Homo sapiens: one gene and its partners. The protein of the gene in region 1 purifies or fractionates together with the protein of each later gene. This does not show direct contact. Each region holds a gene or a part of one and is shown in the gene's direction. Other genes may lie near its edges. The genes, in order: INF2, FCSK and AHR.

Region 1 (3,648 bases):
TGGGCAGAGGTGGCCGGAAGGTCTTGCGCATCTGGGTGAGTGGACGGCCACTGGGTGACCAAGAGGGCCGGGCCTGGGAGGGTGGCTTAAAACCACAGTGCACCGGGGGCTCCGGGCTCTCCGTTCTACAGTGCCCAGACCAGGACCCCCTGCAGGGAGGAGGGGCATCCCAAGGACAGCCTCTCAGGATGCTCCTGGCAGCCTGGTGCTGGAGGTGCAGAAGAAGAAACTGAGGCCCAGGCAGGATGAGTGACTGGGCCAAGGTCTGCTGGTGAGGGCCCGGGCTGGGGACATGCAGATCAGAACCCTGGCTTACACCTGTCAGGCTGCCTCCTGGAAGGAGCCCACTGGCCCCCTGGGGCAGTTGGACAGGTGGAGGGCTGAGGGGCGGTGCGGGGAGTAGGGGCTGGACTGCCGGAAACACCAGGCTTGGTCGTGGACCAGGCTGGGGAGTGGGCCTGAGACCTCAAGGGCAGGTGCTCCAGGACACTCTCCCAAGGCAGGAGGGGAGGAATAGAGCCTCCTGGGGAGGCAGGCGCTTGGGTGCTCGACCCCGCTCAGCTCCCGTGACCTCAAATGCCCTTCAGCCTGGGGTCCCCTGACTTACCGGGTTGGGCAGCACTTGAAGCAAAGCCATGTGGGACCTCCAGTCACAGCCCAGCCGTGCCCAGGTGTGGGACTGTGGGCACAGACCCAGCTTCTCTAGGACCCAGCCGCCTCCAGTTCCCCACCTGTTGTGGGAGGTATAAAGTGCCTGCCTTGGAGGTGGTGGGAAGCCGAGGGCCAGGGTGGAGAGTGCTGGGCCGGGGTGGAGGCTCAGAGCGTGTCCCTGCCAGGCCCGGCCCCCTAGCTCCCTCCCCGAGGCTCCACGCTGCTGTTCTCAGACGCTAAATATAAGATCTAAGCCATACATGGTTGCAGGAGGGCCTGGGATGCCCCTGACCTTCGAGGCCAGTTCCCAGGGTCTGTGGTTGGGGACAGCGGCTGGGGGGATGTGGTGGCGTGGAGCTGATGTCAGAGGTGCAACCCGCCTGTCCTGCTGTTCTGTTTTGGGGAAAGGCACGTGTTGGGGCTCTTCTGGGCTGGGCCTGTTACCTACCCGGGTGTTCCCAGGGCTGGAGTCAGACCTGTTGCGACTGAATCCTGGTAAAACCCTGAGTGCCAAGGGTTTCCGTCTTCCTGTTGGTGTGGGCCCCCTACCCACATGCAGACGGGCAGACTGAGGCCCAGGGGAGACCTGGGAGTCGCCCCTCCTCCCCAGCCACGCTGCTGACGCTGTGGGCACCCCAGGCATGCCTGAGGTTTGGAATCTCCCTGTCCATATTGTCCACTGGGGCGGGGGAAGTGCCCTGGGGTGAGATAAGGCAGCCTCAGATGCGCCGTTTTGTCGCATCATTACCGTGGGTAATGTTCCAGCCAGGGGAGCCTCCCGCTCCCCCGAGTCCTCCCCAAGCTCATCCGGTCCCGTCACTCTGCAGGGGCCGTGCTGGCCTCGTGCTGCAGGTTTCTGAGCCGGCTCCTCCCCTCCCAGCCCTGAGCCTCGGGGTCCTCATGCGCGCAGTAGGGCCCTTCCTGCCTGCCGCCTCGGTTGCTGAAATTCGGTCAGGGATGGGTACAGGGAAGCCTAAGATATAGTGGGGGACACAGTGCTACCCCTAACCCTCAGCATGGCACGTGAGCAGGAATTGCAGCAGAGAAACTGAGACCGAGGGAAGTGGCCCCGCCTGCGCTGGTGGCCAGGAGGACAGCCCCCATCCCCTCCCCGCTGACGGCTCCCTGCCCTCTGCCTGCAGCTCGGCAAGATGTCGGTGAAGGAGGGCGCACAGCGCAAGTGGGCAGCGCTGAAGGAGAAGCTGGGGCCACAGGATTCGGACCCCACGGAGGCCAACCTGGAGAGCGCGGACCCCGAGCTGTGCATCCGGCTGCTCCAGATGCCCTCTGTGGTCAACTACTCCGGCCTGCGCAAGCGCCTGGAGGGCAGCGACGGCGGCTGGATGGTGCAGTTCCTGGAGCAGAGCGGCCTGGACCTGCTGCTGGAGGCGCTGGCGCGGCTGTCGGGCCGCGGCGTTGCACGTATCTCCGACGCCCTGCTGCAGCTCACCTGCGTCAGCTGCGTGCGCGCCGTCATGAACTCGCGGCAGGGCATCGAGTACATCCTCAGCAACCAGGGCTACGTGCGCCAGCTCTCCCAGGGTGAGCCGCAGTGTGGGAGGGCCGCCCAGGCGGACGCTGGGGACCTGGTATGAGGCTTCAGGCCCAAAAGGCCCCGGGAGGCCTGGGGAACCACCAGGAGGAAGCGCAGCCAGGCAGGCAAGGAGGGCTTCCTGGAGGAGGACTGGCTTCCTGGGCTCAGGAAAAACATCCACATTCACTCCGAGTCTGAGGCTTCCAGGTCACCCCAGTCCCCGCACTGCTGCACCAGCGGTCCCCCTGTGCCCCTCTCTGTTGTGTGGCTCTGCCCCACCCTTCCTCCCCGTCCTGTGCTGGCTCCCACCCTCTGGGCTCTCTGCCCTCGTCCACACCTCGGCGGCAGGAGTCACTGAGTCAGAGATGCGAATCCACCCGAGTGGCTCCCTACATACACCTGCCTAGCTCCAAGCCCTTCAGCCTCAGCCCAGACAGAGCCCTTGAGGTCTGGCCCACACCTACTGATGGTGTCACCCTCCACCTCCCAGCGCCTTCCCTAGCGCCTCCCTCCCCGCCCTGTCCCCTACTCCAGCACCCAGGGGACTCGTTCCCGGCAGGCAGGCAGGCCCTTGGTCTCTGCCTCTGCTCGTGTTTTCTGCCTTTGCGTCCTCCAAGGTCCTGCGCCGCTAAGCCTTTAAGCCCCAGCTCACTTTCCTGTCCTCCAGGAAGTCTCCCCAGGCTGTGCCCAAAGTTAGTCCCGGTCCCTTGAGAGAAACCCTTGCTGTGCCACTCCATGGCTGCTGCCAGGTCCTACCGATGCTTGGGGACGAGCTAGGGTGGGCAGTGATGGGCGGGGCTGGGCCCATGGGGGCGGCAGTTACCTGTGCAGGCAAGCAAGCCAGAGGCGCCTCGTTTCTGTCGGACCCAGGGGACAGAGGCAGGTGTAGGGGCCAGCCATTCTCAGCCCGTCTCCCCAGCCTGGGCCTGGCAGGGCCCCTCTATGGAGTCTTTTGTGAATTGTTCTCAGCAGGGTCAGATGAGAGACACCCCCAGAACTTTCACAGCTCCAGATGGGGTGGGAGGCAGGGGTTCATAGGAATGAGGTTGTGTCTGCCATAAACACAGTAAGTGCTGCATTGGGAGAAAAGCTGGGCCCAGAGCCAGTGACAGGATGGGGCAGCTGCCTCCAAGCCCTTCCCTGCAGGGTCTGGCCCTGTGGTCCAGGAGCAGGGCCAGGACACCGAGGAGTGGGGCACCTCGTTGGGTCCCAGCCCACTGCTGTGGGCCACAGACAAGTGCCCGGCACCCCCTGGCGTCTGCCTGCCAGGCCCAGAGCCCCAGCCCTGAGCCCAGCTGCACAGGCATGGGAAGGGGTGCATTGGCCCTGCTGAGCCTGCCCACTCCACCCTGGCAGCCCTGGACACATCCAACGTGATGGTGAAGAAGCAGGTGTTTGAGCTACTGGCTGCCCTGTGCATCTACTCTCCCGAGGGCCACGTGCTGACCCTGGACGCCCTGGAC
Region 2 (3,648 bases), on another chromosome or scaffold:
CTGGTATGGCTGCTGGGCCCAGGTTGCGGGGCTTTGGGGACCTTATGGGACAGGGAGGGAGGGTCTGACTTCCTTCGATTCCTTCTAGAAGCCTCCAGGACAAGCTAGAGCTAGAATCTGAGGACAGGGTAGCCTTGGAATTCAGGGTCTTGTCCTGAGCCAGAAAGCCTAGAACCAGGCGGGCACGGTGGCTAACGCCTGTAATCCCAGCACTTTAGGAGGCTGAGGCGGGTGGATCAGTTGAGGTCAGGAGTTCGAGACCAGTCTGGGCAACGTGGTGAAACCCTGTCTCTACTAAATACAACAATTAGCTGAGCATGGTGGTGTGTGCCTGTAATCCCAACTACTTGAGAGGTAGAGGCTCGAGAATCGCTTGAACCCAGGAGGCGGAGGTTGCGGTGAGCAGAGATCGTGCCACTGCACTTCAGCCAGGGTGACAGAGCGAGACTCTGAATCAATCCCCTGCCCGCTGTAAAACAAAACAAAGCAAACCTCAAAAACTCAAACGAAAAAAGAAAGCCTAGAACCAGAATGTGAGCAAGTTAGGGAGTGCGGTTGGGAGGAGGCCTAGAGCCAGACTCCGGGAATGCTTCCATCATGAGGGGCAAGGATTGGAGAGGCATGGAGATCTGGGAGTGGACCATGGCGAGGGTGGAGAACTGGGTTCAGGAGAAGGCCTGACAGTTGAGGGTGTCCCAGAAGGTGTCTTGGTGGGAGCTACCCCAAGTAAGCCTGGAGTCTGGCTGCTGGAGTGGTCAGAAGGTGACACTCCCTGCCTGGTATGGCACTCAGCTTCATGTGGCCCATCTGCATGTGCCCTCCCTGACTTGTACCAGGGCCTGGTCCAGGGCCCTCCATCTCTGATCCTTTTGGGGTCCCTTCCAGGTCTCTGGGGTTGTCTTCTTCTCTGTGGAGACTGCCGAGCGCCTCCTAGCCACCCACGTGAGCCCGCCCCTGGATGCCTGCACCTACCTAGGCTTGGACTCCGGAGCCCGGCCTGTCCAGGTGACTGGGGGAGGGCAGCTAGGTGGGGCCTGGCTTGGGGGCGAGGCACTGTGTGACCTCAGGCCAGCCACTTCCCCTCTCTGGGGCAGAGTCTCCGCAGACGGGACTGCCCTGGTTCAGCCTCAGAACTTGGGGGCTGAACCCCTGCCATGCCAATAGCTGTGCTTCTTCCCCTTCCCCTAGCTGTCTCTGTTTTTTGACATTCTCCACTGCATGGCTGAGAACGTGACCAGGGAGGACTTCCTGGTGGGGAGGCCCCCAGAGTTGGGGCAAGGCGATGCAGATGTAGCGGGTTATCTGCAGAGCGCCCGGGCCCAGCTGTGGAGGGAGCTTCGCGATCAGCCCCTTACCATGGGTGGGTACTGCCTCTCAGCTCCCTGGGGTGGGGAGACCATGGGAGTGAGGACCCCAAGAATGGAGCTGCTCACTGCATGCTGGGCCAGGCAGCCCAGCACAGGGACTGGGCAGTTCTCCTGTCCTGTGCCAGAGCCCCCCACTGAGCTACCTCCTTCCCCTTCTTGTCTTCCTTTTGTCTCATTCCTGGGCTCTCCCAGCCTGTCCACTTTTGTTTCTGTTTTTTTTTGTTTGTTTGTTTTGTTTTTTGAGACGGACTCTCTCTTTGTCGCCCCGGCTAGAGTGAGGTGGTGCGATCTCAGCTCACTGCAACCTCCGCCTCCTGGGTTCAAGCAATTCTCCTGCCTCAGCCTCCTGCGTACCTGGGATAATAGCCATGCATCATCACACTTGGCTAATTTTTCTATTTTTAGTTGGTCAGGCTGGTCTTGAACTCCTGGCCTCAGGTGACCCGCCTGCCTTGGCCTCCCGAAGTGCTGGGCTTACAGGCATGAGCCACCATGCCCGGCCCTAACCTGTCTGCTTTCTTTTTTTTTTTTTGAGACAGAGTATGGCTCTGTTGCCCAGGCTGGAGTGCAGTGGCGTAATTTCGGCTCACTGCAACCTCTGCGTCTCAGGTTCAAGCGATTCTCCTGCCTCAGCTGCCTGAGTAGCTGGGATTACAGGTGCGTGGCACCATGCCTGGCTAATTTTTGTATTTTTAGTAAAGATGGGATTTCACCATGTTGGTCAGGCTGGTCTCGAACTCCTGACCTCGTGATCTGCCTGCCTCGGCCTCCCAAAGTGCTGGGATTACAGGCGTGAGCCACTGTGCCCGGCCAACCTGTCTACTTTCTAGCTGTGTTGTGTGGCTTTGGGCAGGTTCCTGACTCAGCTTCCCCTAACAGGCTCATGGCCACACCTGCCCCCATGTGTCTCTGCTGCTGGGAGGCAGCCTGGCCCCTGAGTCGCAGCAGGCATGGGGTTGGGTTCAGTACTTATGTCTTTACAGCCTATGTCTCCAGCGGCAGCTACAGCTACATGACCTCCTCAGCCAGTGAGTTCCTGCTCAGCCTCACACTCCCCGGGGCTCCTGGGGCCCAGATTGTGCACTCCCAGGTGGAGGTGAGACCTCCCTGCCCCTCCGGTGCCTGCTGGTTGTCTGGGGTCAGGTGGGATGTGGATTCCCGGGAAGAAAATAGCCGGCACTTGGAACAGATGACCCGAGTGCAGGTGTTACCCTGGTTTACACATGAAGTGCTGGAGGCTCAGAGAGGCTAAGTAACTTGCCTAAGGCCACAGAGCCAGTAAGTGGCCAACTCAGGATTCTGCATTGAGCTTGCCTGATTGAGAAGCTAAAGGAGACCTTTATTTGGGGTCTGCCTGGGGTGACAGTGGTGGGCCTGGGTCAGTGCCGTGCTGCTGAGGAAGGGGACAGGTAGGGTTCAGAGGTGGCCCCCAGGGTGGCAAGGTTGGGCGTAGTTGGACAGGTGGGATGGAAATAGGTCTCAGGCTGGGGCCAAGGCAGGTCCAGAGAGGAGTCTAGGGTGCTGCAGGGCAGGGGAGCAGTAGGCCTGGACGCTTTGCCCCTGGATGCTTGGCTTGGGAGGAGAGCTGGGGCAGCCCTGGGCCTCGACCCCCCTCATGCTCCTCCTACCTGGCTGCACAGGAGCAGCAGCTTCTGGCGGCCGGGAGCTCTGTGGTCAGCTGCCTGCTGGAGGGCCCTGTCCAGCTGGGTCCTGGGAGCGTCCTGCAGCACTGCCACCTGCAGGTGAGGCCTGAGCGTGTGGGCAGATTGGGGCGAGGGTGCTGGCATCCCGCATGTGTTGGGGGGTGTTGGGTGCCTGCCCACCCAGGATGCCTGCCCTGTCCCCCACCAGGGCCCCATTCACATAGGCGCTGGCTGCTTGGTGACTGGCCTGGATACAGCCCACTCCAAGGCCCTGCATGGCCGGGAGCTGCGTGACCTTGTCCTGCAGGGACACCACACGCGGCTACACGGCTCCCCGGGCCACGCCTTCACCCTCGTTGGCCGTCTGGACAGCTGGGAGGTAGGCAGTCACCCTGCATTCCCTCACCCCCATCTTCAGGCTTTGGGGAGCCCAAGGAGTCCTGGCCCCCACCCCACTGCGGGGTTCTCTGAGCACTGGCCCGTGGGACAGGCTGTGAGGAGGGTCGGATGTAGGGAGGAGAGAATGAGGGAGGAGATAGGGTGAAGATAGGCTGTGAGACCAGCAGAGTCTCCACAGGCCTTTACCTCCCTCCTTGCATCTGCTCTGCCAGGTGGGCTGGGTGGGGATTTTGTTTTTT
Region 3 (3,648 bases), on another chromosome or scaffold:
ACCATTAAGCTTAGAGAAGTCAAAGAGGCCTGGGGTGGTTAGGAAAAGCTGCATGGAAGAGATAAGAATCTAAAAACTAACAAATGAATATGGAACATAAACAGATTTTAATATGTTGCATTTAAGGAATGGGGATGTGACTTATTTGAGCAAGAGCATTCATGTTGGGAACTGATGACAAGTAACTTTTGGCTTATCTGTTGTAGTGCCAGTCTCTTTAGCTTTTTCTACCTTAGGTTCTATCTTAGGTGACTAGGGAATTTTAGGAATCATTCAATTCGTATTCATCACCACTAGCAAGCACCCACTAATCTAAATAGGCTTTAAAATTAATTTAGCCATATTTTTTAATCAGTCCTTTTGTTGTATTCCTTGTATCTTTTTTCTTTAGTCTGATGTCATACATCAGAGTGTATATGAACTTATCCATACCGAAGACCGAGCTGAATTTCAGCGTCAGCTACACTGGGCATTAAATCCTTCTCAGTGTACAGAGTCTGGACAAGGAATTGAAGGTAAGAATTGATGGTACAAAAAATAGTGTTGGTAGTTTTTAAATATGAGTCTGTGAAAGGAGGCTGGGAACCTGTAGGGTCATAGAACTCCATGATAGGGAAGTAGTGGAAAGATGTAAAGTCTGCAATCATAGGCCACAGCTAGGTCACAAAGAGCCTGATGAGCTAAGGAATATTTTGGCAAATGAGAGCCATTTAATGAGTTTCAGGCAACAGAGTATTGCCATAGTCAGTAATGTATTTTATAAAAATAAGTAGTACCTTCATGAAAGATGGAAGGAAGGTACAAGGTTGATACCTGAGTGCATGTAAATTATTGTGTTTAAAATGCACCAAAGAAAAAAGTAAGCTAGCATATGCAAGTATAAAAATGCTTTTCTCAATGCAAAAAATGTTTTTGGAAATTTGTTAAAGTGTTAAGAAAACAAAAATGCATTAGAAAATATGAAAATTGTTGACAGTGATAGCTCAATAAAAATTTAAAAAATTATGCAAGTTCTATCTGATAAAAGTGATATTTAATAAACTTTTAGTTTCTTGTCATTAGCTCTTTTGAAAATGATTTTTTTGTATTCAGAACACAGACTCCAGTTTAGAAACTAATACAAATTTTACCTATTCAAGTGCTTAATTTTACAGCAAAATGGAAAGTAAATTTTGTTTTGCCTTTATTTCTACAGAAGCCACTGGTCTCCCCCAGACAGTAGTCTGTTATAACCCAGACCAGATTCCTCCAGAAAACTCTCCTTTAATGGAGAGGTGCTTCATATGTCGTCTAAGGTGTCTGCTGGATAATTCATCTGGTTTTCTGGTAAGGTACAAAATTTTATGATACTGGCTTTTACTATTGTTACAATAAAAGCTTGAGGCAAATTTAATTTAGCAAAATATAATTCAGCAGAGAACTATTCCCAAATCAGGCAACCCTCAGAACCAGAGAGCTTCAGAGAGCTCACTTAAAAACATGGGCTGGAGCATTTATGAACAGAAAATGCAAGTGAGGTACAGAAATGGCTTGATTGATTACAGCTTGGGATTTGCCTTATTTGAAGATGATCTGATTAGTTGGCCACCTGTGACTGACTGAGACTCAGCTATTTGGTTACAAAAGTTTAATTCTACTGTTAGGCTTTCCGTTAGCTTATATAGTAAATGAAGTTGCAATTCCTTGGTAAGGACTTAAGGAGCAGAGGCATCTTCAGCCCAAATTTAGTTTAACATTAAGTTATAGAAAAAACAAGCCAATTTTCTTTGGTTATCTTTGATTTCAGCTTTAAAAATCTGCTACCAAATAATTTGATAAAGGAAAGTAACATTTTAAAGTAATTATTTCTGATTTTGACTATCTTCTATAACTCAGAAAACTGTTCTTTAGGATATAGTAACAAAAATTGAGTGAAATAACACGAAGCCTTGTATTTTGACTATTTTAGGATTTTTAAGGTATGAGAGAATTATGTAGCCCTTTTTTAATAGGAGGATGCTTACCATCTTGGGATTGAATGCCTGCTAGACAGAGAAATTATGGCCTTTCCATATGTCTCAAATAACTGCCACATAGAAAAACGATTGTATATTCATGATTGTGGAATCATCATTTGATAGGAGATGCTGTTTTCTTGTTACAAAGTCTGAACACCTGCATAGGAGTTGACTGTAGGGAACAGCTTAGGATTCCTCAGAGTGGACTTGTCTGTTATCTCATTGTATCCTTAGCTCATGTTACCAAGTACAGGAGAAGAAAATACAAAGTATATTGTATATTCTTTTTGTGAATAACAAGGAATTTGAAACAGATAATCAAATCTTAAATTAACATTACCAAGCAATGATTTTTGTTTATGTGTTTATTTCTGAAGAGGATTTTGCTGACCCAGAATTAGAATTATGCTTTGAGACAGTTTTCCCAGTGTTATTGCTCATGAACAATTAGTATGTAGAGTCATGTCCTGCATAATGATGCTTTGGTCAATAACAGACCATGTATATGATGGTAGTCCCATGAGATCATAATGGAGCCGAAAAATCCCTATCACTTAATGATGTCATAGCATTGCTCACATGTTGATGGTGATGCTGATGGAAGCAAACCTGTGTTGCCAGTCATATAAAAAGTATAGCACATACAATTATATATGATACATAATACTTGAAAATAAAACAATAATAAATCACTATGTATTTACTATTAATCATTATTTTACTTTATTTTTAAATGTATTATACTTTTAATTATTTTATTTTAATCATTATTTTAGAATAAGGTTAACTGTAAAACAGGCTCAGGCAGGTCCTTCAGGAAATATTCCAAAAGAAGGCATTGTTATCACAGGAGATGACAGCTCCATGCATGTTATTGCCCCCGCAGACCTTCCAGTGGGACAAGATGTAGAGGTGGAAGATAGGATCATTAATGATCCTCACCCTGTACAGACCTAAGCTAATGTGTGGGTTTGTGTCTTAGTTTTTAACAAAAAAAGTTTAAAAAGTAAAAAAATTAAAAATTAAAAAATAGAAGAAAGCTTATAGAATAAGGATATAAAGAAAGAAAATGTTTTTGTATGGCTGTACACTGTGTTTAAGTGTTATTACAGAAGAGTCAAAAGTTAAAAATGCAAAAGTTTATGAAGTAAAAATGTTACAGTAAACTGTGCTGGGATTACAGGCATAAGCCACTGCACCTGGCCAAAAGGAAAATATTTTTTATAAATTCAGCGTAGCCTAAGTGTATAGTGTTTATAAACTCTATAGTAGTGTACGGTAATGTCTCAGGCCTTCACATTCACTCACCACTCACTCACTGACTAAACCAAAGCAACTTTCAGTCCTGCCTACCTTGTTTACAATAAGTGCTCTTATACAGGTATACCATTTTTTGTCTTTTATACTGTATTTTTACTGTATATTTTCTATGTTTAGATACACAAATACTTACCATCATGTTACAATTGCTTTAAGTATTCAGTACGATAGCATGCTGTACAGGTTTGTAGCCTAGGAACAAAAGGCTATACTGTATAGCTTAGATGCGTAGTAAGCTATACCATCTAGGTTTGTGAACCTACCCTCTGATGTTCACAGGATAATGAAATTGCCTAAGGACACATTTCACAGAACATGCCCCTTTTGTTAA

What was found.
Region 2: the proteins of INF2 (region 1) and FCSK purify together in Homo sapiens (affinity purification with mass spectrometry; one large-scale study listed by BioGRID and IntAct). This does not show direct contact.
Region 3: the proteins of INF2 (region 1) and AHR purify together in Homo sapiens (affinity purification with mass spectrometry; one large-scale study listed by BioGRID and IntAct). This does not show direct contact.

What each region holds. Positions count from the first base shown.
Region 1 is NC_000014.9:104,699,564-104,703,211, forward strand, and holds part of INF2 (inverted formin-2), read left to right. Parts: intron 1-1,793; 5' UTR 1,794-1,802; coding exon 1,803-2,193; intron 2,194-3,541; coding exon 3,542-3,648.
Region 2 is NC_000016.10:70,467,964-70,471,611, forward strand, and holds part of FCSK (L-fucose kinase), read left to right. Parts: coding exon 1-3; intron 4-885; coding exon 886-1,005; intron 1,006-1,188; coding exon 1,189-1,360; intron 1,361-2,350; coding exon 2,351-2,463; intron 2,464-3,007; coding exon 3,008-3,109; intron 3,110-3,218; coding exon 3,219-3,389; intron 3,390-3,648.
Region 3 is NC_000007.14:17,329,561-17,333,208, forward strand, and holds part of AHR (aryl hydrocarbon receptor), read left to right. Parts: intron 1-391; coding exon 392-515; intron 516-1,195; coding exon 1,196-1,326; intron 1,327-3,648. UniProt on the Homo sapiens protein: Ligand-activated transcription factor that enables cells to adapt to changing conditions by sensing compounds from the environment, diet, microbiome and cellular metabolism, and which plays important roles in development, immunity and cancer.